Homo sapiens: one gene and its partner. The protein of the gene in region 2 purifies or fractionates together with the protein of the main gene of each other region. This does not show direct contact. Each region holds a gene or a part of one and is shown on either strand. Other genes may lie near its edges. The genes, in order: GOLGA4 and ACADSB.

What was found.
Region 1: the proteins of ACADSB (region 2) and GOLGA4 purify together in Homo sapiens (affinity purification with mass spectrometry; one large-scale study listed by BioGRID and IntAct). This does not show direct contact.

The regions. Positions count from the first base shown.
Region 1 is NC_000003.12:37,361,556-37,365,382, reverse strand, and holds part of GOLGA4 (golgin subfamily A member 4), read right to left. Parts: intron 1-3,827. UniProt on the Homo sapiens protein: Involved in vesicular trafficking at the Golgi apparatus level. May play a role in delivery of transport vesicles containing GPI-linked proteins from the trans-Golgi network through its interaction with MACF1. Involved in endosome-to-Golgi trafficking.
Region 2 is NC_000010.11:123,043,200-123,047,026, reverse strand, and holds part of ACADSB (short/branched chain specific acyl-CoA dehydrogenase, mitochondrial isoform 1 precursor), read right to left. Parts: intron 2,635-3,827; coding exon 2,542-2,634; intron 1-2,541. UniProt on the Homo sapiens protein: Short and branched chain specific acyl-CoA dehydrogenase that catalyzes the removal of one hydrogen from C-2 and C-3 of the fatty acyl-CoA thioester, resulting in the formation of trans-2-enoyl-CoA.

The DNA of each region.
Region 1 (3,827 bases), on a different chromosome or scaffold from region 2:
CAGGAGAAATCACTTGAACTCAGGAGGCGGAGGTTGCAGTAAGCCGAGATCATGCCATCGCTCTCCAGCCTGGGCAACAGAGTGAGAGACTGCCTCAAAAAAACAATAAAAAATAAAGATGAGAAAGAGCTCTTTCCTCTTATCCAGTGTGCTGATTATTCTACAAATTGCAATTCTCCCAGCATGACATAATAGCAAAAGACAAACAGCATTTTGGTGTGGAAATTTATGTCTCATCTGGAATTAAGAAATTTAATTTAAAAATTAAAAACAGCCTGGGCAACATAGTGAGATCCCATTGCTACAAAAAATAGAAAAAATTAGACAGGCATGATGGTGTGTGTCTGTAGTCCCAGCTACTCAGGAGGTTGAGGCAGGAGGATCGCTTGAGCCTGGGAAGTCAAGGCTGCAGTGAGCTGACTGTACCACTGCACTCCAGGCTTGGCGACAGTGACACCTTGTCTCAAAAAATAAATTAATTAGAAATGCTGGCTGGGCATGGTGGCTTATGCCTATAATCCCAGCACTTTTGGGAGACCAGGGTCAGAGGACTGCTTGAGCCCAGGAGTTCAAGACCAGCCTGGGCAACATGGCAAGACCCTGTATCTACAAACTTTTTTTTAAAAAAAATAGCTAGGTGTGGTGGCATGTGTCTGTGGTCCCAGCTACTCAGAAGGCTGAGGCGGGAGGATTCCTTGAGCCCAGGAGGTCAAGGCTGCAGTGAACTGTGTTCACGCCACTGCACTCTAGGCTGGTGTGACCATGCTGGGGGGCAAAAAAAAAAAAAAAAGCTATGACATAGCCAAAGTCTTCCTCATAATGTTTCTCAAATGAAAATGCTGGCCAGGAGCAGTGGCTCACGCCTGTAATCCCAGCACTATGGGAGGCCAAGGCAGGTGGATCACCTGAGGTCAGGAGTTCGAGACCAGCCTGGCCAACATGGTGAAACCCGGTCTCTACTAAAAATACAAAAAATAAGCTGGGTGTGGTGGCGGGCACCTGTAACCCCAGCTACTCAGGAGGCTGAGGCAGGAGAATCACTTGAGCCTGGGAGGTGGAGGTTGCAGTGAGCCGAGATTGCGCCACTGCACTCTAGCCTGGGCAACAAGAGTGAAACTCCGTCTCAAATATAAAAAAAAGAAAAGGAAAAGAAAATGCTAAAACCAGTAGTCACATCAAGATATGAGTTTAAAATCCCATAAAAATAAATTACCAAGTAAGATTAATAGAGGCAAACTTTCCATATATATTAAGTGGATAGGGGGAGTTTTAGTCTTCTGAATTTGTAAATGAACAAATATTTCACTACTCATAATGTACTACTAATAGTATATTATTTATAAAACTAGTTCAATAATCATGTTGGTCCTAGGAACCTAAAGAAGACACCAACAAGATCTTCTGTTATACGTAAATTCCTTGTCAGTTTTTATTTTGAAACCGTAGCTTGATCTGTTGTGGGAAACAAAATTCAAGATCAGTTCAACAATGCTGCATCATTAAAAACAAAAAAGCTAGACGTTTTCTAGTTTAAAAAAGACTAGGAAAATATGACCACTAAATGCAATGTGAAATCTCAAGTGGATCCTGGATTCTAAAAAATTATGGGAGACATTATTTGGAAAACTGTAAAAAACTGAGTATTATGTACTATATATTAGTATTAGCTAATATTAAACTTCCTGAGTGTAATAACTGTACTGTATGTAGAAAAATGTCCTTGTTCTTAAAGATACATGCTAAAGTACTTAGTTTATGTTTACAATTGTCAAATGCTTGCAAGCATGTCGGCAAGTAATTGCCAAATGTTACAAATGGGGAATAATATAAATGGAGAGAGAACAAGAGTGACAGCAAGTCAGAAAATCTGGCCAAACATTACTAGGTGAAGGGTATATGGGTGTTCATTGTACTATTTTTGCAAATCTTATGTCTGAAATGTTTCAAACTAAAAGTTGAGGAGACAATCAATTAATCAATTAATAGAAATGCTGCACAATATACATTTCCAGTGATAATTGATATTCAGCTGCAATAATAACAAGTACAATGCAGTATTATTTTAAAAGGAAAACATTAAGACTTAATGGGTTAGCTATAGAATTTACAGTTTTTCAATGTTCACATTTATTATCAAAGTAACCTAATAAAACCATGCATTGTACTGCCAGCCATTGTAATGTGGATGACAAAAATAAGACAGTTCTGGATAATCGCTAAGGCAAATCAAATAATATATATTAAAATCAAAAGGAGGCTCAAATGAAGGCACAGAAGATTTTTAAAGATAAAAGCTTAGAGGGCCAGGCACAGTGGCTCACGCCTGTAATCCCAGCACTTTGGGAGGCCAAGGTGGGCAGATCATGAGGTCAGGAGATCGAGACTATCCTGAATAACACGGTGAAACCCTGTCTCTACTAAAAATACAAAAAATTAGCTGGGCATGGTGGCGGGTACCTGTAGTCCCAGCTACTCAGGAGGCTGAGGGAGGAGAATGGTGTGAACCCAGGAGGCGGGGCTTGCAGTGAGCCAAAAACACGCCACTGCACTCTAGCCTGGGTGACAGAGCGAGACTCCGTCTCAAAAAAAAAAAAAAAAAAAAGCTTAGAGGCTGAGGTAGGAAGATCGCTTGAGCCCAGGAGTTCGAGACCAGCCTATGCAAGACCATCACTACAAAATAAAATAAAATAAAAAAATAGGTGCCTTAGAGTCCCAGTTATTTGGGAGGCTGAGGTGGGAGGATCCCTTGAGCCCAGGAGCTGACACAGGAATGAACTATGATCACACTACTGCCCTCCAGCCAGGGTGATAAAGGCTTTACTTATTTTTTAAAAAAAAATAAATAAGGCCGGGCGCGGCTCACGCCTGTAATCCCAGCACTTTGGGAGGCCGAGGCGGGCGGATCACGAGGTCAGGAGATCGAGACCATCCTGGCTAAAACGGTGAAACCCCGTCTCTACTAAAAAAAAATACAAAAAATTAGCCGGGCGTAGTGGCGGGCGCCTGTAGTCCCAGCTACTTGGGAGGCTGAGGCAGGAGAATGGCGTGAACCCGGGAGGCGGAGCTTGCAGTGAGCCGAGATCCCGCCACTGCACTCCAGCCTGGGCGACAGAGCGAGACTCCGTCTCAAAAAAAAAAAAAATAATAAATAAATAAATAAATAAATAAATAAATAAATAAATAAAAGCTTAAAAGAACGGAGAAATGTTGTATCTTGCCATTTTAAACCTTGATACTATTATTAGCTGGATATTAACAATCACTGAGAGTATTTATTTTAATTATAGTGAAGCCCTACTAATTGTGATCTGTTTTTGATTTTGTGAAAATTCTAGCAAAGGCTGAGGTAAAGATGTATGGTACATTTTCAGAGGGTGCTAAATCAACCTAATAGCATGAAAAATACATAGAGATGAGGGGAGAGGGTTTAAATGATGAAGACAGTCAACTGCGTTGAAACATTTCATATGCCTGCATTTCACTGTAATATGTTAATCAGGAAGAATCACATTCAATTAAAGTAGGCTGCCTAACGGTCTCCTCAGGACAAATGTGTTGTCTTGTGTTAAACTGTCTGATTTCAGGAAGTAATGAAGCTATATTTTAAAATTGATCTTACTAGTTTTCATTATTTCTGACTGGCCTTGACTCAGGCTTTACAGGATTTTGAATTCTCACGGAATATACCACTTCATTTTTATCTAGAAAATGATTTTTCATTTCTCTCTCACAATCATAATTTCAAAGATCATTCTTGGAAAATTAAAAACAAAAGGGAAAATAAGTTACATAAATACTTTTTTGGATTCTTTAACAAAATTTCAAAG
Region 2 (3,827 bases):
CCAATAATTGGGAGAAAATTTTGAGTGATTTCATGTGAATATGAGCACATTTAATTCTAGCAGAGGTAAATCTCCCAGCAAGGCTGTGTTCACACAACCTTTTTAGGTTAAGATTACTCTTTAGGAATCTTCCTTAAGCTTTGATTCTCCAGGTATAAAATGAGCCATAGAAGTTTTGCTCAGAACTGGCCTTGAAGGCTATAGAGGAAGGCCCTCCAGTTCTTCTAGAAGTAAAATATGGAAGGTCACTTCTTAACTTTCTACCTTTCCGTCTATTTTGTATATGATTAGGATTAATGAGAGCTTCAATGGGAGGGCATTAGAACATAAGAGAGCAGTGGTTCTGAATCCGAGCTGTACCATAGAATCATTTGGGGAATCTGATTTAAAACAATACTGATACCCAGGCCTAATGACTGAATCCAAATCTTGGGAGTAGAGTAGGTGAAGGAGTGTGACCTAAACCTCAACTCTGTAAAACTCCTTAGTGACTTAATACACAGCTAGGGTTGAGAACAATGGATAGAAAGCATCTAGTAAAAACATTAATTTACACAGGACGTGGTGACAATTTTAGCTGAACTGTCTCACTGCTAACCAACTTTCATATCTATTATATGATTCAAGCTTAGAAATCGTTTCTAAATTTCAACATTAGGTAGCCACTAAATCAGTAATTATGTCAAATTATGGTTTTAGAAAATCAATAGCTAAAGCTTTTGGGGGAAATGCCCAGCAGACTTATCAATTTATTTCATTAGTATTCATTCACATTTTCTTTTAGTCTTTTATTCTGAACTCTCTAGAGAACAGAATAATATGTTAAAAATTAAAGGCACAAGAAAACCACAAACCCCAAATTCAAATGAGGCAGCAGACTCACTGCACTCTTGGCTGTGAGATAAGATGATGTCACTATACCCTTACAGCTAAAATTTGTACATAAATAATACCCTATATTGACACGAAGACTGAAATAATCAGTTATCCATCAAAATGGGCTTTTCTACCTCAGTAAAATGTTTCTACTACAAACACTGAAAAACTGAATTCTCTCTGCCTGCAAGGTTTCGAGGACAGATGCCTTCAGTTCACTGTTATACTCCGTGTGCCTCTTCCTCTCAAAGGTATCCACTGAGATAGTAACTACCTGATCTTAACTTTTAATTAGGTTATTATATAACTTGGAGTAATTAAACTGAAGCCCAGGCTGTGTATTTTATTGCCAGAACATCTATATTATTTATATGTCTGAAAAAAATGAGCTCTAGTATTGCAGTTTCTAATGTCATGTCTAAGTTGAATCACAGAAAAACTTTTAAGAGAACTGATAAAACAATATTCTTTAGTGACACACTGTCAAGCATTGTAGGAAAACTAGACTAAGTTTTGGTCTAAAAATAGTTAGCAAAGTAACAGCAGCAGAAAAAAATCTAGAGTAATAATCTAATATTTATTCCAATAGCTTATATGTAACATCTTCAAAACTGAAAAGCTCTAAGTTCTTGAGTTTTGTATAATCACTGATTAAAAATATACTCTACAAACGCCGGGCGCGGTGGCTCACGCCTGTAATCCCAGCACTTTGGGAGGCCGAGGCGGGTGGATCACGAGGTCAGGAGATTGAGACCATCCTGGCTAACATGGTGAAACCTCATCTCTACTAAAAATACAAAAAAAATTGGCTGGGCGTGGTGGCGGGCGCCTGTAGTCCCAGCTACTCGGGAGGCTGAGGCAGGAGAATGGCATGAACCCAGGAGGCGGAGCTTGCAGTGAGCCGAGATCGCACCACTGCACTCCGGCCTGGGCAACAGAGCAAGACTCCATCTCAAAAAAAAAAAAAAAAAAAAAAAAATATATATATATATATATATATATATATATATATATATATACACTCTACAAAACTGACACTAAAGTAAAGCCAAAGACCTTATTCATTTTGTTAATCTGGAAAATAACTGATATTACTTAATAGAAAAATGCAATATGCATTATAAAAGCCAAATTTGGTAAAAAAAAATTTTGAATAGTTCTCATTTTATGTATCTACTTAACTGTGGCTATTTTATTTCATGTGCCGCCAAAAAACTTGCCCAGTTTTCACATGCAAAACAGTAAGCAACAAATCTTTTATTAACTATAGATATCTTTACTACACAGTGGAAGGAATATTATTTATTCTTAATGTAAAAAATTCCTTCCAGAATGAATTTCATGCTTTGAAAAGTTGATTTTTTTTAAAGTGCCATATTTAATTTACAATACATTTGAAAAGCTATCGGTTCAGGTATTAGATAATACTTTAATGTTCTCAAAGCAGAAACACTGTTACCACCAAGCCATTGTTTGGTTCTATGGACACTTACATAATTGACCAAAAGGGAATTTGAAAGAAATAATAAGCCATTCTATCCCTCATGTAAGGGAACGGTGCCATCTTGTGTCCATAAGCTTCCAAATATTCATTGGTCTCATTGCATTTTTTTCTTTTCACAGTTTAATTGACTCACATCATGGAAGAGTTTAAATCTGACTTACCTGTGCAGCAATTCCTATTCTACCTTCATTGAGACTCCCTATGGCATACTTATAGCCATGTCCAATTTGTCCCAAGATATTGGCTTCTGGAACCTGAAAATACAAATGTGCACTTATTTCTCAGTTTCATTTTCCATGATTCATTTTGATTATATATTTGTAAGTACACATAGACTCTCAATTCGTGTGCTAGCCCTCTCACAGAACTTGCCGGCATCTGTGTCTCCCTCTACGCTGTTTTTCCACAGCTCTCTGAGGAAAAGGACTCAAGTCCATGCTGTTCATGATTGCATCCTCCAGAGCCTTGCACAGGTATTGAATGGATGAGTGAATCTAGAGTAAGGGAATCTCATAGAATTCATCAATAACATAAATTAATACTTTTCCCCCCCAATTCTTATCTGTAGGCTACAGTGTGAGATAACATATTAGGAACTACAAAGATCTGCAAATACTTGCAAAAACAAGTGTAGTAAGCCTTTCTGCTGTTGAGACCATTCACCCTCATAAAAATCAACGGTGGGGTATATGTGTGTGTGCATGTGTGTACACAGGTGTATGCACAAGAAAGAGGAAGAGAGAAGAAACAGACTAAAATGCTTATTCATACTTTAAAAAAATAAAGAATTAAGAATAATAAAAAACTATACTTAGTTTTGTAATATGGGTAGTTGGGGGAGAGAGCAGGGAAGAATGGAGAAAGAAATGGGAAAGTAAGAATGAGGAAAACAGTTGGGGTGAAGTAATGAGGCCCCAGTGACATCTGTAAAGACATCCTCCCCCTCACTCCCCACAGCCATGCAAAAAAAAGATCAAGCTCTGTGATGAGTGGTGGAAAAGCCGACACCACCTGCCCCACCTACAGGGAGTTCTCCAGCATCAGCACTAACTATCTGGATCTTCTGCTGCTCACGTTTAATAGCCTGGCTGTTTCCGCTCTCACTGAGCAACACCCCCATCTTGTGGCCTTTAGTGCACTGACACCAGACTTCCTTCTCTGCGGCCCCATTTGGTTCACAAGTCTCAAGCTTATAAAGTATACGTGGTCAGAAGCACATAAGTTATAAAACATAAATGGGATGAATTCTTGGCACTTGCTTCCCAGGACAGCTTCTTGGCAGAAAGGTTTCCACTTTTGTGAAAAGTACATTTATCTGGTCATGACTAAAGAGCGCTGTTCAGGGTTTTACAAAATACTCTCCTGCGTGTGCTTATAGCCACTTAGTATTTTGACACCTGTCTTGCACACCTCCTGTGGTTCCATGCAAGGCTTATTTCGCATCAGT